Regions from separate parts of the Homo sapiens genome. Here region 1 is linked to region 2. The links come from fine-mapping of genetic effects on gene expression. A gene starts in region 2. The other region holds a variant in brackets. All regions are shown on one strand. Distances are between the middles of the regions.

What was found. PIP is the estimated chance that this variant, and not a neighbour inherited with it, causes the effect.
Region 1: its variant is fine-mapped to the expression of ELF3-AS1 in monocytes after Pam3CSK4 (Quach 2016, PIP 0.95).

Annotation. Positions count from the first base shown.
Region 1 is chr1:201,983,049-201,991,767 of GRCh38, reverse strand. It overlaps RNPEP (arginyl aminopeptidase), which reads right to left. Exons shown (of 11, transcript NM_020216.4): 1 at 8,655-8,719; 2 at 2,724-2,864; 3 at 2,237-2,385. Among named protein-coding and RNA genes, the nearest start is that of RNPEP, 4.8 kb to the right of the region's middle. RefSeq lists an enhancer at 1-2,069 and silencers at 5,644-5,818, 8,535-8,719. The variant C/T (reference allele first, on the strand shown) is at 5,282.
Region 2 is chr1:202,004,031-202,015,033 of GRCh38, reverse strand. ELF3-AS1 (ELF3 antisense RNA 1) reads left to right here and starts at 4,681. Exons shown (of 2, transcript NR_146472.1): 1 at 4,681-5,234. It overlaps RNPEP (arginyl aminopeptidase), which reads right to left. Exons shown (of 11, transcript NM_020216.4): 10 at 10,538-10,680; 11 at 8,891-9,476. The coding sequence ends at 9,318. It overlaps ELF3 (E74 like ETS transcription factor 3), which reads right to left and starts at 4,447. Exons shown (of 9, transcript NM_004433.5): 1 at 4,328-4,447; 2 at 3,735-3,905; 3 at 2,856-3,077; 4 at 2,598-2,690; 5 at 2,275-2,394; 6 at 1,998-2,087; 7 at 1,736-1,852; 8 at 1,010-1,205. The coding sequence starts at 3,897. RefSeq lists enhancers at 604-1,803, 2,613-3,547, 3,548-4,481, 6,208-6,849, 10,060-10,702.

The sequences.
Region 1 (8,719 bases), 22 kb after region 2:
ACACATTTCTGTCAAAATAAATCAGGATGCTCTCAGTCAAGCTGCAATCTCACTACCTGTAGTATATTGCAAAGAGCACTGGATTTGCAATGGAAATACCTGAATTTTAATTCCAGTTTTGCCAACTAGTGGTCCTGCACAAGCCACTCACCACAGCCTTGGTTTGCTTATTTTTAAAATGTAGAAAGTATCATCCTCATGGAGTCTGTGTAAGGATTAGAAGAGATTATACATAAAAGGGCCTACTGGGATATACCCATAATTCCCCTCTGCCCAGGATTTTCCTCTTGCAGTAACAGGGACTGGGATAGGTGGCATACCTTGCCAGAAGACCCTCCGATTTAATAAACCCCCACGGCCCGGCGTGGTGGCTCATGCCTGTAATCGAGCACTTTGGGAGGCCGAGGTGGATGGATCACGAGGTCAGGAGTTCAAGACTAGCCTGGCCAACATAGTGAAACCCTGTCTCTATTAAAAATATGAAAATTAGCCAGAAATGGTGGCACACACCTGTAGTCCCAGCTACTTGGGAGGCTGAGGCAGGAGAATCACTTGAACCCAGGAGGCGGAGGTTGTGGTGAGCCAAGATCGCGCCACTGCACTCCAGCCTGGGCAACAGAGCAAGACGCCATCTCAAAAATAATAAATAAATAACCCCCCACAAGACCCTACGATGTGACCCAGGAGGCAAGAACTGTCCATTTAATCACGGAAGGAATAAGGCATTACCACCAGTTAAGTGGATTCTGTCACCTAGTTCGATATACCATGTTGTCATTTTATTACAGGCAGTATAAAAAGAAATCATTATCACTCAGTATCTTTAGAATCTATTGTTCTCTCATTTCCCATTAATAGTTCATACTCTTACAAGTAGAACCTTAGTAAGGGTATTCTTGGAAACGACGTTCCTTTACTTATCTACTTGCTTGTCTATTGCAAAGATGACATCCTTTTGGTTATTTCCCGCCCTGCCTATTAGGAAGACAGCCCTTCGTAAGAGGAGGGCACTTTGTCTTTCCAGACTGGTATTGTTTTGAATGTGTGCGCTGGGAGCAGATGCCAATGGAATCCCATTTATTATTCCAACTGATAACCAGAAACTAAGACTCATGATACCAGCAGTGCCACTGAGCCCAGTTATGAAGTCTGAGGCTCGTAACTAATGTTGTCAAGGACACCACTGCCTCTAGGAACTGGGAGCAGGGCCAGAGATAAAGAACAGCAACAGTGCCAGGAAAAGGTCACGGCTTCACCGTCCAGCCTGTGATGCTCCCACATTGGGACTAAGCTATGGTGGAGGTAATATGAGAGCCAGGAAAAACCTATACTCCTGGTCAAACCTCTTTTATCAGGAAACCTTACAAAATCCCTTTTTATCTTCACAAGATCCATGTAACTTCACGGAGGCATTGCTCTCACCGTAGGCTTAGACTCATGCATCTGCTGCAGATAGGAAGGAGAGTCCACTTCCCTCTTCGAGGGAAATGATACCAAAGTTGTTATTTCCAGGAACTACGTGCAAAAGAAAATGGGGAAGATTTGGTACAAAGATAGGAAAGTGGATATAGCTGCTAGAAGGGCATTTAGAACTTAAAGATATTAATAAAGATCCATTTCCCAGGCCGGGCATGATGGCTCATGCCTGTAATCCCAGCACTTTGGGAGGCCAAGGCGGGTGAATCACCTGAGGTCAGGAGTTCAAGAGCAGCCTGGCCAACATGGTGAAACCCCGTCTCTACGAAAAATACAAAAATTAGCCGAGCGTGGTGGGGCATGCCTGCAGTCCCAGTTACTTGGGAGGCTGGGGCAGGAGAATCGCTTGAACCCAGGAGGCAGAGGTTGCAGTGAGCCAAGATCGCACCATTGCACTCCAGTCCAGCCTGGGCAACACAGCAAGACTCCATCTCAAAAAAAAAAAAAAATCCATTTCCCAAAACTGCAGCCTAAATTCCAACATCCCTCTGTAAGGCAGCCCAGGACAGCGCTACTGCTAGCAGGGATGATGATCTCATTCCAGGCAGCAGGATTAGAACTGGAGAGAGGGAGTGAGAAAGGCAGGGAGAAAAAGAGCACTTCCTCCAGCTGTGCTCATGCTGCATGAGCTGCAGAAAGGCTCTGGACTCAGACAGAGGATCCAAGACTGCCCAAGAACCCCCCCAGCAGGTCCACTGGTCAGAGTCCTCCTCACCTCTGAGGCCAATCCAACCTTGCCTGTGGGGTCTTTGTCTCCTACCTGGGTCCAACTTCAGCCGAAACCAGATCTCCGATGGCCAAAGCTATCAGATAGGAGGGGATGGGCTGACACATCTGGAAGAAGAACTTATTTGGACCTCTCTTCTCCCAGGTGCTAGCACTCATCACAGCTGTGAAGCCATCTGGGACCTGACAACAGAGAAAGCTTAGGAGATTTTACCTGGAGAGAGTTTCCTTTTGATTAGTTTGAATAAGAGCATGACCGGCCACCTGTGTGTGATGATAATGGCCTGGAGTCTATCTTGGAGAACACAAAGGTTTCAAGAAACTAAATCTGTGCTCAACTGATGGGATTTAGAGGAAGGCTACATACAACTTCAGTAGGTGGAAGAATTTAAAAGTAAGCAATTTTTCAGAAGTACCACTGAATGGATATAATAATTTACCACTGAAACGTGACCTGATTGATAGATCTGAAATCATTTCTTCATCCCAAGGGCAGGTGCACCTAACCTTAGTCTCCTTACCTCAATAAGAGCTGAATACTTGTATTTAACAGCAGGCGTGTCGAAGCAAGGGAAGAAGGCCCGGTTTAGGACAGCCTGGCCCTGGGTGTACACGAAGGGCTTCTTCTTTCCTGCTGTCTGCTCGGGAGCCAACCAGCAAACCTAAGCGAAAAGAAGAACATTTCAGAACTGACATCTCCCACACGAGCTCAGTCTGGCCAGAGAAGTGAGCTGGCTGGAATGAGAGAATTTTAGGTAATCCTTAAAACCTTTCCGCCAGCCAGTCTGGTTTGAACTAGAAAGCTCTCTCCTCTGTGTATTTAGTTCATCCTGGAATCCATGCCAAAGTATGACATCCACTTCACAGGGCAGAGCCACCAGAAAGGGTCCATTCCTCACTGCATCCCATGGGTCATCTCAGAGACCTTGGACCGAGCCTCTGATCTTGTCATCTGTACCCTATCTGTGTCCTTTTCACTGTAGTAGTTTCTCATCAAACAAAAAACTACTGAAGCAACTGCATTTGGACTTGTGATAAGACACAGAAAAGCAGAACTCAACTGGGAGTCAGTGATTAATATGTTTTTTTTTTTTTTTTTTTTTTTTTTGAGACAGAGTATCGCTCTGTCGCCCAGGCTGGAGTACAGTGGTGCAATCTCGGCTCACTGCAACCTCGACCTCCCAGGTTCAAGCAATTCTCATGCCTCAGCCTCCCAAGTAGCTGGGACCACAGGCGCGTGCACCACCAAGTCCAGCTAATTTTTGTATTGTAAAGATAGGGTTTCACCATGTTGGCCAGGCTGGTCTCCAACTCCTGGCCTCAAGCAACCCGCCCACCTCAGTCTCCCAAAGTGCTGGGAATACAGGCATAAGCCATCATGCTCAGCCTAATATACATTCTCTTTTCTTTTCTTTTTTTTTTTTCGAGATAGAGTTTCACTCTTGTCGCCCAGGCTGGAGTGCAATGGTGTGATCTCAGCTCACTGCAGTCTCCGCCTCCTGGGTTCAAGCGAGTCTCCTGCCTCAGCCTCCCAAGTAGCTGGGATTATAGGCATGCACCACCACATCCGACTAATTTTGTATTTTTAGTAGAGACGGGGTTTCATCATGTTGGTCAGGCTGGTCTTGAACTCCTGACCTCAGGTGATCTGCCCGCCTCAGCTTCCCAAAGTGCTGGGATTACAGGCATGAGCCACTGCACCTGGCCTAATATGTGTTTTCTGTTCCTAAAATTTACCTTTTCAGAAGAAAGGTATTTTATATAATAGGCACTGGTTATATGATTCTTTATCTGTGTTCTGTTAGCTCTTAAACAAAGGGCAAATCTGGGTTGGGTGCAGTGGCTCACGCCTGTAATCCCAGCACTTTGGGAGTCCGACGCAGGTGGATCACTTGAGGTCAGGCGTTCGTGACCTGCCTGGATAACATGGTAAAACCCTGTTGCTACTAAAAATACAAAAATTAGCCGGGTGTGATGGCATGCACCTGTAATTCTAGCTACTCAGGAGGCTGAGGCAGGAGAATTGCTTGAACCCAGGAGGCAGATGTTGCAGTGAGCTGAGATCATGCCACTGCACTCCAGCCTGGGTGACAGAGCGAGACTCTGCCTCAAAAAAAAAAAAAAAAAAAAAAAAAAAGTAAAATCTGAATGATTTATCACAAAACCCAGTTTTTGCCTATAGCAAACAGCCATTCATTTACCTGGAAGAGGGGCAGGATGGAGCATAGGTCAGTAACAAATAGCATTTAGAATTTAGAAATGGATTCGATTACTCCAGGATGATTTCATAGGGGAAGAAAACTTTCTGGCTGGACCTTCAAAGACACGCAGGATTGAGATGGCTGGAAAGGAAGGGAGGAGACATTCACAAGGAGACGAGCAGCAACATGAGGAGAGGCATAAACAGATGCAGGCTCCAGATGCAGAGTTGGGGAGGCAGGCCTGGGCAAGTCTAATGAAGGGTTCTGAACACAGCAGTGTCTGAGACCTATTTTAAGAGGCATAAGGAAGCTACGTTGGGATGCTGGGTTTGAGTTTTTGTGTGTGAAAAATTTAATTAGTCTCCTTATAACAGGTACAGTGCAGTATAGAAAGGGATGAGAGAATAACTTCACAGTGGAGAAAGCTGATAATCACTGCTTCAGCCAGGGGACCGAGGTTAACGCTGACAGTCATAAATCATGTGGATACTATGCGCCCTCAATACCTGATGAAAATGGCACTTTGGCTGGGCGCAGTGGCTCACACCTGTAATCCCAGCACTTTGGGAGGCCGAGGCTGGTGGATCACCTGAGGTCGGGAGTTCAAGACCAGCCTGGCCAACACAGTGAAACCCTGTGTCTACTAAAAATACAAAAATTAACCAGGGTGGTGGCATATGCCTATAGTCCCAGCTACTTCGGAGGCTGAGGGAGGAGAATCGCTTGAACCAGGGAGGCGGAGGTTGCAGTGAGCCGAGATCACACCACTGCAGTCCAGCCTGGGTAACAAGAGTGAAACTCCATTTCAAGAAAAAAAAAAAAAAAAAAGAAAGAAAATGGCACTTTACCTCTGTGAATTGCCCCTCAAAACCCATAAT[C/T]CCAATCTAATCATGAGAAAACATCAGATAAATTCCAATACAGGGTCATCCTACGCTATACCTGGCCAACACTCCTCAAAACTGTCAAGGTTGGCTGGGCTCAGTGGCTCACACCTGTAATGCCAGCACTTCGGGAGGTCAAGGCAGGAGGATCGCTTGAGGCCAGGAGTTTGAGACCAGCCTGGGCAACATAGGGGGACCCTGTCTCTACAGAAAAAATAAAAATAAAAAAATAAAAAACAAAAAACTGGCTGGGAGCAGTGGCTCATGCCTGTAATTCTAGCACTTTCTTTGGGAGGCCAAGATGGGAGAATTGTTTGTTTGAGCCCAAGCGTTTGAGACAAGCCTGGATAACACAGTGAGACCTCATCTCTACAAATAATAAATTCAAAAAATTAGCTGGGCGCAGTTGTATGCGCCTGTAGTCCCAGCTACTTGGGCTGAGGCAGGAGGATCACTTGAACCAGGGGGATCAAGGCTGCAGTGAGCCATGATTGTGCCACTCACTGCACTACGGCCTGGATGACAGAGCAAGACCCTGTCTCAAAAAACAAACAAACTGTCAAAGTTATATCAAAAACAAGGAAAGTTTGAGAAACTGTCACAGTCCCAAGAGGATACATGACAGCTAAATATAATGTGGAATTCTGGATGGCTTCCTGGAACAGAAAAAGACATTAAGTAAAAACTAAGGGAATCTGAAAAAACTATGGACTCCAGTATCGGTACTGGTTTATTAATTATAACAAATATATTATTATACTAATGTAAAATGATTCAATCTTGGTTAATAATATATCAGCATTGTTTAATTGTAACAAATGTGTCATACTAATGCAAAATGGTAGCAAGAGGGGAATCTGTGTGTATATGTGTATGTAGGAGGTACTGAACTGTATATGGGAACTCTCTGAACTGGCTGCTCAATTAAGCCAGGCATGTTGGCTCATGCTTGTAGTCCCAGCACTTTGGGATGCCAAAGCGGGCAGATGGCTTGAACCCAGGAGTTCAAGACCAGCGTGGGCAACATGGCAAAACCCCATCTCTACAAAAAATAACAAAAATTAGCCAAGTGTGGAGGTGGCAGGTCTGTGGTTGGTCCCAGCTACCCCAGCTACTCAGGAGGCTAAGGTGGGAGGATCACTTGAGCCAGGGAGGTCAAGGCTGCAGTGAGCTGAGATGGTGCCACTATACCAGTCAATAAGAATTGATCAATTGACTGATCATTGAATGCCATCAGTCAGTGATGTTTTTACTGATCAGCTAGGAAATGAGTATTTTTTTTTTTTTTTTTTAGATGGAGCCTCGCTGTGTCACCCAGGCTGGAATGCAATGGCATGATCTCAGCTCACTGCAACCTCTGTGTCCCAGATTCAAGCGATCCTCCTGCCTCAGGCTCCCAGGTAGCTGGGTTTACAGGTGTGAGCCACCACAACCAGCTAATTTTTGTATTTTTAGTGGAGGTAGGGTTTCACCATGTTGGCCAGGCTGGTCTCAAACTCCTGACCTCAGGTGATCTGCCAGCCCTGGCCTCCCAAAGTGCTGGGATTACAGATGTGAGCCACCACACCCAGCCTGGAAACGAGATTTTTAAAAAGAACAATGTAGGGAGCTTTTTGATCCCTTCTCAAAAAAAAAAAAAAAAAAAAAAAAAAAAAAAAAAAAGAAAGAAATACAAAAGTTAGCAGTAAGAGCTAACACAGCTTACTTACCATGTACCACGCACCATATTAACCACTTATGGAAAGACAACTCATTTAACCTATGTCAAGCACTTAGACTAGTGCCTGGCTCATCTTATTAAATATTAGCCATCATCCCCCCTCCACCAAAATTGCTTACTCATCATCTTTGCTTTTTTGTTGTTGTTGTTAAAACAGGGTCGCACTCTGTTGCTCAGGCTGGAGTGCAGTGGTGTTATCAGGCTGTGAAAGGAAAATCTCTTGGGCCCCCAAAATCACTAAAGAAAACTCAACCTGGGAACCGCTTAGGGCACACCTGCCTCCCATTCTATTCAAAGCCACTACTCTGCTCACTGAGATGGATGCATATCTGATTTGCTTCCTTTGGAAAGGCTCATCAGAAACTCAAAAGAATGTAACCATTTGTGTATCACCTATCTGTGATCCGGAAGCCGCTTCAAGTCTTCCTGCCTTTGCTGCAAGTTGTCCCACCTTTTCAGACCCAACCAATGTACTTCTTACATATACTGACTGATGTATCATGTCTCCCTAATGTATAAAACCAAGCTGTGGGCCGGGCGCAGTGGCTCACGCCTGTAATCCCAGCACTTTGGGAGGCCGCCGAGGCAGGCGGATCACGAGGTCAGGAGTTCGAGACCAGCCTGACCAAAATGGTGAAATTTTGTCTCTACTAAACAATACAAAAATTAGCCGGGTGTGGTGGCGCACGCCTGTAGTCCCAGCTACTAGGGAGGGTGAGGTACGAGAATCGCTCGAACCCACGACGCAGAGGTTGCAGTGAGCCGAGATCTTGCCACTGCACTCCAGCCTGGACGAGAGTGAGACTCTGCCTCAAATAAATAAATAAAAGATTAAACTGTAAGCAAGCAGTTTACTATGAAACTTGCAACCAACTCTACCTGAGAGATAACTGGCAGCCACAGCCTAAGGACTCTCCAGGAAGGATTTTCTGACTCTTACAGACATAAGCCACATAACTCCATCCTCTTATTTCCAATATTTGCCCCGTCCCGAAAAAAAATTAAAGAGTTAACCAACAGTGAGAAGGCCAAATTATTATAATGCTTATAGCACCCTAATTCCAGTTCTCACTTTTACTCAAATTCTTTCGTTAATCAAATCCAGGACTTCACAGGAGGAAACAAAAACAAAGATAAGAGCTTTAACCGTGGAACTAGAAGGCAACACAGAACAAAGAGCTAGATCAACATCTGGCTAATTCTAGAGCCACCATAAAGCAGAGATAAGGTGGCTGATAATCAGGTACCTCGGCCCAAAAGTCCAAGAGGGCACTAAGTGAAGTGCATGAACAACAGGTCATCTAGAAAGCCACGGAAAATGTTAGAAACGGCAGTGTGCGATGAGCGGGAATGCGGCGCAATCTGGACAAGCCTCCAGGGCCAGGGAGGAGACGCGGAAGGACGGAAAGGGTGAAGGATGCACCGCCCAGTGGCTGGAGGAAGTCCAGAAGGAAACCAGGCAGCCCGGGAGGAAAAGAGGAAGCAAGGGGAGGAGGCCTAGAGGCGGCGCGCGGGGAGTAGGCCCCTCTAGGGACGCTCTGGAAGGGTCCTCCCTGTCCCTCCTCCCGGGTGGGGTAGGTGAGGGTGCAGGGCGGCTGGGGGCCGGAAGGGCAGGCAGGCAGCGGCGGGCGCAGTCTGGGGCGCACTCACCCCGGGTCCCTCCCCGACGCGGTAGGTGAGCAGCACCTGGAGGCGCTCGGCGGCGCGGCAGGGCT
Region 2 (11,003 bases):
GAAGCTCTTTCCCTACACTGGCCTGTAACCGTGCCCAGGACACAGGGCTCTTTGCCTTTGCTTCTTTGTATCCTATGGCTGTGACTGGGGTCTGATCATTAAATTACATGACTTTTAAGGCCAGGGAGCTGGGCACGGTGGCTCACACCTGTAATTCCAGCACTTTGGGAGGCTGAGGCGGGCGGATCACTTGAGGTCAGGAGTTCGAGACCAGCCTAGCCAACATGGTGAAACCCCCGTCTCTACTAAAAATACAAAAATTAGCTGGGCATGGTGGCAGGTGCCTGTAATCCCAGCTACTTGGAGGCTGAGGCACAAGAATCACTTGAACCCGGCAGGCAGAGGTTGTAGCGAGCCAAGATTGTGCCACTGCACTCTAGCCTGGGTGACAGAGCGAGACCCTGTCTCGAAAAATAAAAAGAAGAAGAAGAAAAAAGAAAAGGCCAAGCATACTGGCTCACACCTGTAATCCCAGCACTTTGAGAGGCCGAGGCAGGAGAGTCATTTGAGGCCAGGAGTTTGAGACCGGCCTGGCCAACGTAGAGACCCTTGCCTCTATTTAAAAAAGAAAAAGAAAAAAAAAGTAAGTACATGATTTTAGGGCTGGACGGGATCTTAAGATGATCTAGTGTACTCCTGGACACAGGAGGAAACTGAGGCCCAGAGAAAAACAACCTAAGTGCTTCAACGAGGAGAAAGCCAGGCCCTGGGTGGGCACGGCTCCTGCCCCCTTTCCCACTCTCCAGGTGCCTTCCTGAGGACAAGCCTCACAGGCGATACAAGAAATGTTGCTGCTAGCTCAAGTGCACTGTGTCTGCTGTCTGCCAGGCTAATACTTTCTCCATGTTGTCATTTAATCCATGAAGTAGACCAACCCAGATGTTGTCCTCACTCTAAGGACTCAGCCCTGTTGCAAGAAGCCAAGTGGCAGCCAGAAAGAGGGCGGTGGGAGTGTGAGCGCCTGTCCCCATGTCCGGCTGTATCGTGAGGGTCCTGGCCGCCAGCTCACCTCATGGCCCGGCTCAGCTTCTCGTAGGTCATGTTGCTGTTCTTTTTCTTTTGGCCCCATAGTTGGGCCACAGCCTCGGAGCGCAGGAACTTGAAGACGCCTTCATGCCGATTCTCCCACTTCATGAGGCCCTCGTTGAGCTCCGGGTGGATGAGGATGTCCCGGATGAACTCCCACAGGTGGGTGCCTCTGGGCGCTGCAAGGCCAGCCTCCATCAGTTTGCCATCCAGGTGTCCCCTCTCACCCAAGGCCAGCCAGCCCTGCCCGCCCCAGTGCACTGCTGACTTGGCCACAGCATGCAGCAAGCCTCTCCAGAGACCCCGCAGTGCCCTCTGTGCGGGTACTGCAGTGACTGCTTTTCTCCTCAGCCCACCTAAGACCCACCAGCTGCCTCCTCACATTGAGGGTGTCCCAGAGGGCAGGACAGTGGCCAAGTGCAGAGAGAACTGGAGTCAGTGGACAGGACACTGGAGTCAGTGGACAGGACTCTGGTACCATGAGCCTCCCACTGGGAGCCTTATTTCCTCCTCCTCTCCAGGACCACCAAGCCAGGCTCTGCAATTAGGTGGTGACCGATACCATAGAGCCCCCAGCTTGTGCACAGCCTTACCAAAGGCCATGCGGAGGCCAGAGAAAACGGGAGAAGGGATACCTGCAACAACCCGCAGTGCCCCAGGAAGCCGCTCAGCCCGGCGCAGGGAGGACCCACGTGCCCCCGGAGCTCACCGTGCTTGCTCTTCTTGCCCTCGAGACAGTCCCAGTACTCTTTGCTCAGCTTTCGGGGCCGGCCTCGTTTCCGCTTCCCGTGCTTGGGATCCCCCTTCTTGCAGTCACGAAAACCATCTGTGGGGACGGTGGTGGAAGGTCAAGGAGGGGCAAGAGGGGAGTTAGGGAGAGTAGCCCCTCTACAGGAAAAGGCTGCAGGAAGAGCCGGGCCCCCTGTGCATTGCTAAATGGGACGCCCTCTTGGGGACCTCCCTCGACTCACCGCTGGGGAAGAGCTTGCCATCAGTGGGATCCAGGTCCACGTCACTTCCACCGGAGTCTGAGGAGTGGGAGCTCCGAGAAGCACCAGTCCCTGGGGGGCGGGGTCAGAGTAAGTCCCCTGCCGGCCCACCCTCTGCTCAACCACGCTGCTGGCTCTCAGGACACACTTCCCAGCCTGTTCCTGTTCCTGCCAGAAGGCCTGAGTTATGGTGCTGGGAGCCAGAGGGAACAAGGGACACTTCGGGGAAGGGAGGTTGTGGCCCAGAGAGAGCTCTCACCTGCGGTGGAGACGTCAGAGCTGCCAGGGGAGGGGGCTCCTGCGCCACAGCTGCCGGGGTGGTAGGGGCTGGCTTGCTGACCGTCGTCCAGCAGCTCCTGGGCAAAGGGGCTGCCCTGGTCTGGGAAGAGGAGGTGAGAACTCAGAGAGGGCTCAGGGGACCAGACCAGGACAGGTGATGCTGCCCATGGGTCTGATGACCTGCTGCAATTTTTCTAATTGAGGGAGGAAGAAGTCTGGGGAGGGGGTCATCTCTAGCACTCTGTGGAGGGGCAGGGATGGGACAAGACAGGCTGGGGAAGGAAGGAGAAAACGGGTTCTCACCAAAGGGCCCTGGGTCTAGGGCCTCCTGGAAGGCCATGCCATCCTTCTCCAGCAGCTCAATGATCCAACTGAGCTCATCAGAAGAGCTGGAAGCTGACAAGGAAGGAAGGAAGGGTCACACTCCCCTAATCCCTCCCTCAAGGGCTCTCTCTGGCTGTGCAGCTGGCCCAGAGCTCCAGGGCCTGCCTACGGCCACACTGAACTCGACTCAGCTCAACATGTGGAGCTGCTCCCCAGCCTCCAGGGGCCTGGACTCACTGAGGTCTCGCAGCTGGGCATGGAGTTGGTCCCCCAGAGGCCCAAAGACCAGACGCAGCTCCTCAAGGGCACAATTGCAGAGGGTGGCGCCATCCATGTCACATCGTGAGAAGTCAATGGCGCTTGCGTCGTACTTGTTCTTCTCCACTTGGTAGCTGATCCAGTCCAGAACCTGCGTCTTCGACCAGAACTGGGGCTGTTCCCCCAACCAGCTGGCCTTCTCTGCAAGGGCCAGGCAGGGAAACAGGCTCAGCTCAGGCCACCCAGCAGACCTTACAGCCCCATTTTTTTTTTTTTTTTTGAGATGGAGTCTCACTCCTGTCACCTAGGCTGGGGTGCAATGGCACAATCTCGGCTCACAGCAACCTCCACCTCCCAGGTTCAAGCGATACTCCTGCGTCAGCCTCCCCAGTAGCTGGGATTATAGGTGCCCACCACCACGCTGGGATAAATTTTTTTTTGTATTTTTAGTAGAGACGGGGTTTCACCATGTTGGCTAGGCTGGTCTCGAACTCTTGACCTCAGGTGATCCGCTCAGCTCAGCCTCCCAAAGTGCTGGGATTACAGGCGTGAGCCACCACTCCCAGCCCACACAGCCCCATTCCTGGAGCACACTGGGGATTCACACCTCAGCCCTTGGAGCCATCCCAAGAGTAGGGGCAGGAGGTAGCATTCACAACACCCTTGTCCTGGTATCTGACACCTCCCTCTGCCTGTCACAGCCCCACAACCCCCAGCACCTCAGTCACTAAGTCTCAGCCTCTAGCCCTGGAATTTGCCTAGAGACCCTCCTCCCTGCCTATTCCCCCATTTGTCTAACAGGCCCTTAGATGGATCTGTCTCCCACTCCGTGCCCCATCCCACCCCGCTGAGACCCACCTGTACCCTCCAATGACATCTGGGGGTTGCTCAGGGTCAGTACCAAGTCATCGGCCCCAAAGGTGGCAGCAGGGGGAACAGAGGCCAGGGTGGAGTCCTCCGAGCTGTACATCGCACTGAAGTAGTTGCTAAAAATGTTGCTAATCTCACAGGTTGCAGCCATGAGGCTACCTGTGGGTAGGGGGAGAGAGGATGAGGTTGGTGAGGGGACGAGGGTCCTCTCCTTACACTCCCAGCTACTCTGCTTTGCCCAACCCTGGGCAAGAGTAGCCCCCAGGGGCAGGAAGATCAGCAACTCTGCGGACACCGTCTCTTCAAGAAGGGCTCCAAGATCTCAGACCAGGGCAGGACCACAGGAGCCTCCAGCTGGGCTTCCCTCCTCAGATCTCTGGGGCCCTGGAGCCAGACTAGCGGCGTCATGGCCATTCTGCCTTCCCAGAGACAATCTCTCTCTGTTCTTTGACCCTCAGGACACCTACGCTCTTGCTCGGAGATCCTAGACTGGAGTGTGCAGGTTCAGAACTGCAAATCCTCTGGACCCCTCTGCAGTTTCCCAAGAGCTGGGCTAGGGAATGACAGGCGGGGAATCCTACCGGAGTGGCGGAGTCCGGCTGTGGCAGGCAGGCCGGCAGGCGGGAGAGAAATCCAGTTCCGCCAGGTAGCGCTGAGGTATCTGGCCGCTGCGCTCCCCTACCCGGCTCTAAATAGAGCCTGGAGGGAGCTCCTCCCTGAGCTCAGGGCTTTATAGTGTGTCCCCTGCAGTAACCTGAGCTGGTGTCTCATTGGATGGAGGGGATTTCCTGGCCTTTAGACTGGGCTCCTGGCCCCAGGTGATTTGCATATTCAGTGCCACTTGGCCCGGATCTTAGCAGGCAGTGCTGGGAAATCAGGCCCGGCTGGTTTAATGATTGTCAGAGTCTGTCATCCCGCACCCTCTGGGGTTGGGCACGGGGCACTGGCCTGGGCAGGTGGCGGGAACGTTGCTGGGGTGGGCATCTGTGCTTTCGGCTGCCCTCTGGCCCAGGAAATTCCTCCCAGGGGCCAGGCCAGAGATGGGCCAGGCAGGGGGAGGGCAAGTGAGGGAACATGAACCCCTGGCTGACCTGAGTCAGAAAGCTGCTGGCCCCTAAATTCCAGAGATTCAGCAACAAAGAGGCCTAGTAGGGAGAGGAGTTACTAGGTTTAGGGGTTTTTCCCAGAACACCCAGGACTCTGGCCAGGGGCTGGAAGGTGCTCCAGGCTCAATGCTGGGCAATACTCATGGATTAATTGGTGCTGGCTGGGCCTGCCAGCCTAGTCGTGGCCCCAGGGTCCCCACTAAAGGGCTCCTTCTCCAGCGCCCACTCTGTTGGCAAGGTCTTCACTACCATCACCTGCCTGGACTCCATCCAAGCATCAGGGTTGCTGCAGTCGCTCCTGAAGAGACCCGGCTCTGCTTGAAAGTTCTTCCCTCAGCGCCTGCTGGAGCCCTCCCTGCCGGAGTTGCCAGAATCCACACGGGTAAGTTCATCCCTGCTCTCTGGACCCCATCTAATCTCTGGTTCACTCGGCCCAGTTTTCCAGTACCTTCTGCTGCCCTCTAGTGGTCAGAAGCCTGACTACCTGGGTCACGTCATTCAAAGAAGAGGGAATGCATAGTATTAATATATTTACCAAGCACTTTTCAACATATTCTCTCATTTAATCCTCACACCAAAAAAGTCCTGTAAGGAATGCATGGTTATTCCCATTTTATAGACATGAAAGTTGCAGTGTGGAGGGTTCCCTTAGAATGGCTTGCCCAGGCCACACAGAGTTGGTGAAGGGGTGGAGCTGAGATTCACATCCAGGTATGCAGGTGTGTTGTACACAAAACCCTCGCTCTTTCCCTGCACAGGATTCAATGTCTTCGGGCTTCAGAGTCTTCCCATCCAGCTCCATGGCCAGAGCCCTTGCCTTCCCTGTGGGCAGAGTCCCCCATGTCTGTGGTTGTCTCTATGGACTCAGCCCGAAACACAATGGATAGTGTCTTATAGACCCTTCTTGAGACCCTGAATGGGGTAATACAGGTGGTTGAGGCAGGAGACTTGTAGCCAGCATCTGCAACTGTGTGATCTTGGATGAGACCCTTGGAGTCTGTGCTTGTTTCCCCATCTATAAAAAATGAGGTTGTCTGAATTTAATAATCCCTAAGATCTCTTCCAGATCTAGTATTTTGTTTATTTTGTTTTGAGGTGGAGTCTCGCTCTGTCGCCCAGGTTGGAGTGCAGTGGCGTGATCTCTGCTCACTGCAACCTCTGACTCCTGGGTTCAAGCGATTCTCCTGCCTCAGCTTTCCGAGTAGCTGGGATTACAGGCGCCCGCTGCCATGCCCGGCTTTCTGTATTTTTAGTAGAGACGGGGTTTCACCATGTTAGCCAGGATGGACTCGATCTCCTGACCTCATGATCTGCCTGCCTCAGCCTCCCAAAGTGCTGGGATTACAGGCATGAGCTACTGCGCCCAGCCCATATCTAGATTTTTATGCATTTGAAATGTAGGATCCGGTGGCTCACACCTGTAATCACTGCGTCTCAAAAAAAAAAAAACAAAAACAAAAAAATGTAGGATCTGTGTGACCCCCCTCCATTAATGCACAACTTGGGGAGTTCCTGGCCACCCTCAGCCAGGGTGGGTGAAACGGTTACTCAAACAAAAGGTGACTCCACCTTCTACAGATACTTCTTTCTTTAACTCTATAGCCTGAGGACTAAGAAAGTCCTGCGCAGAGAATCTGCTTCTTACCTTACCTTCTTCCTCTCTGAAGCTCCCAGGTGCCTAGGAGAGAGTTAATGTCCAGGATCCCCCCGCCCCCCCGCCCCCGCACTGGGCCAGTGCAGGCAGGAGAGCCTGGGGCTCAGTAGGATTTTCCCCAGCCCTTCAGGGGGCCTCCCCCAAGGAGCCTGAGGCAGGCACACCCTCCACCCAGTCCCTCACCCAGGAATGTGGGAGAACCGGCTTCTAGCCCCAGGGCTGCTCACGTGCTCCCTGCCCTGAAGAGCATCTGGCTGGGGCTCCCGGGATGGCGGGGTGAACAGGAGGATGTACGAGAAAAATGAGAAGGCTGTCAGCTCCCTTGCCTTCTTGGGGCTTCCTCACCGCTGACATGGAGCTGAGATAAGGAATCCCTACAGGCTGGCAGCTTGAGATAAGTGAGAAAGACTTGGATTTGAGGTCAGTGCCTTGGAGGCATGGGGATGGGGGTGGGGAGAAGGTTCCAGGATAGTGGTGAAGAGAGCTATGGAGCAGGATGCCAGGGGCTTCCCAGTATTCTGTGATGGCAAAAACAACCCACTGGCCTCCCCTCTCCCCACAGAGCTTGCCCACACGGCAGCACAGCCTCATCTTTGGGATGGGAGAATGTCCTACAAAAGGACAGGCACATCCAGTAGTCCTGTCAGGTACCAAGGTGGTGAGTGAGGCAGGCTGCACAGCTCAGGATACCCACGCTATGTAATGGGAGACCCCACAAAGTTAGTGGAGTCACAGCACGGCTGTTAGAGGAAGGGCTTCCAGCCTTTCCTTGCACTGACCCTTCATGATTACTGGGCCTATTGGTGCTATAGGTTTTTGTACAGAGCAAGGAAAGATAGCTACTGATAAGCTAGATAAAAGGTTGGGGAGAGGGGGAGACAACTGGATAGCCCTAAAATAGTCCTTGCCAATAACATATTGCCAGGAACAGTCCTGAAAGAGCCACGGAAGCAGTTTGCTGTCAAAATGCCAGTGCCTGGAGAAGCTCTTCCGATACCGGGCCTCCAGATCCCTCACCTATGACCCACATCACCCTCTCTGATGGTGGAGCTGTGTGCCACGGGGCAGAGGCCTCTCCAGTCTACCACTTGGTCACCACTAGTCCCTTGCTCTTGCTGAGTGAAAGCAAATCGACTCATTCCCAACCCTTGTGCAGGGGAGGGAGGAAGCCTGTTCGATAACCTAAATCCGAGGACAGAGCAGAGCTGCGAACAAAGCCTGTTTCAGGGGTGCCCTGTATTTAAGAAAGGCAAATGAAACACACTAAATATTTCTTCCAACCCTCCCCTCATCCCACTCCCAAACCCAGATTGCTAACTGTTTAGGTCCCCATGTTGAGGCCAGGAAATCAGAATTTAGTGCTAAGTTCTAAAGACTTTACTGATTACCATTCAAATAGTTATCTAGGATCAAAGACAGGTGAGGCCCAGTGAAGCCTTGGGCATGGGCAGAAGGGTAGATAAAAAGTCATAAGACACTTTATTTTTATTTTTGAGACAGGGTCTCACTCTGTCACTCAGGCTGGAGTTCAGTGGCACAATCAAGACTCACTGTGGCCTTGACCTCTTGGGCTCAAGTGATCCTCCTGCCTCAGCCTCCTGAGTAGCTGAAACCACAGGAATGCACCACCACGCCCAGCTTTTTTTTTTTTTTTTTGAGAAGTCTTACTCTGTCACCCAGGCTGGAGTGCAGTGGCATGATCTCAGTTTACTGCAACCTCCACCTCCCAGGTTCAAGTGTTTCTCCTGCTTCAGCCTCCCAAGTAACTGGAACTACAGGTGTGAGCCACCATGCCTGGCTAATTTTTGCATCTATCTTTTTTTTCAGTAGAGATGGGGTTTCACCATGTTGGCCATGCTGGTCTCAAACTTCTGACCTCAAGTGATTTGCCTGCCTCAGCCTCCCAAAGTGTTGAGATTACAGGCGTGAGCCACCACGCCTGGCTTTTTTTTTTTTTTTTTTTTTTTTTTGGTAGAGATGAAGTCCTGCTATGTTGGCCAGGGTGGTCTCAAACTCCTGGGCTCAAGCGATCCTCTCGCCTCAGCCTCCCAAAGTGCTGGGATTACAGGCATGAGCCACCGTGCCCAGCCCATTTTTTTTTCTTAGTGATGGAAAAGATAATGGGAATGCTGCTGCAGATAGAGAATTCAGCTGCTTCACGGAGAACTGGAATGCTATTCCTTTTTCATTTTCCTGCACCAGCTGTGCCATTTTGCCATATTTTTTTTCATATGCATGTGTAGGACACCCACCTCCTTCACCCTGGCTGTTCCCTGAGGACAGGAAAATACTGTCATTCTCTGGGCCTCCCCCAGTGACCTTTCCTGAACAAACACAGTGAGGACCTCTGGTGGAAGAAATTTAATAGTCACTCAATCCGTAACTTAATTTTTGCTTGAAAACTTTATTAAAATAAGGATTAAACCTGAAAAAAGAACAATCAGAATGCCAGCCCTTTGCATAAAATCAGCAAGAAAAAGGACAGAAAGAGAAAAAAGAAGAGCATCAGTCCTCTCCACTTCTTCCCAGAGACTTAGGTGGGGAGGAGAATACCCGCTGCCCTGCAGTGCCTGCAGCCTGTAGCGGGGAGAGCTGTGGGCAGGTTCTCTGTCTCGGGGCTCAGTGGGCTATAGAGAAGTAAGTTCCCACCAGAGCAGAGGCCCAAGAGTCACAGATACCTAAGCTAGAGAATAGATTATCCTGAGGGGATATAAACTCCAGGAAGTTGATCAGGGAACAGGAATTTGGGAACAAACAATTATTCTGAAAGCCTGGAGAGCCTGAAGAGGCAGGGGCCATGCACACGAGCCTCTAACTGCCCTTGGGTGCCACGATCTGCTGGACATAGTTGACAACATTGCTGTGGAGCTGGGAGGCGGTGGATGCAAAAGTCTCCTTGGCGAGGGTCTGGGCCACCTCACTGCCACCCATCATTGCGTGGTACAGCGGAAGTGTATACTTCTGCTTCCCCTGCAAGAAACACACATACACATGCCTAAGAAGCTTGCCTGGTGGATCTGTCCAGCCCTGCTGCCCCCAGTGCCAGTCTAACAGCAGCCATGGCTAGGTGCTAAAAGGGATGTGGGCATCACAGCTGGAATGAGGAGCTTCTCATCAGAAGTGCTCTAATTCAGGCATCTTCTTGGGCGCCAGAGATCCATGGAGATGGATCTCAATACGCGTCCCAATCCATACTAACATGGGGACGTCTACAGTCAACAAAATGAATGAGTTGGGTGGACACAATGGGATTCCAGACTTCTGGAAAGGTGTAGGTGGTGAGCCACCACGTGAATAGCAGATATCAGCAGCTGCGGCACATAAAGCTCACAGCCGCATACGGTCCAGCTGCAGTCAAGCAAAGGAAAACCCACAGGTCAACCCACAGGTCAAATTCACACAAATATAAGCCAGCGACATCACAAGTTCCTAAAATCCAGAGCCTTGAGGAAGCCATCAAAGGGCTCAGAATATCCCCGAACAGGCAGGCAGCCCTGACTTTATGCAGAGCAATGCTTCGTCTCCGGTCCAGCCCCTCCCTGCTCCGGAATCTGATGACATTCAGTTCATCCTGAGAGCCCGGGGCCTTTCCCCAACAGGGCAACTTTCACATAGTGACAGAGGGTCTGGCTGCTGTCCCGATCATGCCCAAGTCACAGGGCAGCAGGGACCTATCCTCCAAGCCTTTGTTCCTCTTGCTCCGCCTCTGGCCCCTTTCCCTCTTGTGTTTCCCACATGACACTGTCACCCTCTTTCCCGCCTCTGCGTTGGCTCTGGCCAGCTTTTTTCCCTGGGGTCTCACCAGCTGAATTGCAGAAAGCACTGCAAGCCTGCAGGCCTCCTCTTGTCCCTAGGGCAATGCCTTCAAAGCCACACTAGTAAAGAGGCTGAGTGGTAGGGTCCTCAGGTCATTTGCCCCTCCCTCTGTGCCTCAGATGAGTCCTAGATGAGCCCTGCCCACATGATTACTTCACATATGGCCGAGTGGGTCCCAGTGTGCTTTCGGGAACAGCGAGGCAGGGGTCACCCACCTGGTTATGCAGGAACTCCTTCACTTTCCAGAAATCTTCCTGGTGGTCGTTCTTAAGGACGATTTGGCCCCATCGCAGCCGGAGCTCTGCATTCCGGGCATTTGAGATACTTGGGTATGTGTCTCCAAGTTTTTTCACATTCCCTGGAGAAGAGAAAGAAATGGTTTGTGGCTGGTCACGGTGGGTCACACCTGTAATACTAGAATTTTGGGAGGCTGAGGTGGGCGGATCACTTGAGGTCAGGAATGTGAGACCAGCCTGGCCAATATGGCGAAACCCCATCTCTACTAAAAATACCAAACAAAACTGGCCGGGTGTGGTGGCGCACGCCTGTAATCCCAGCTACTTGGAGGCTGAGGTGCTAGAATCAAGAATCACTTGAACTCAGAAGGTGGAGGTTGCTGTGAGCCAATAGCACCACGGCACTCCAGCCTGGTCGACAGAGCAAGATTAAAGCAGACATATT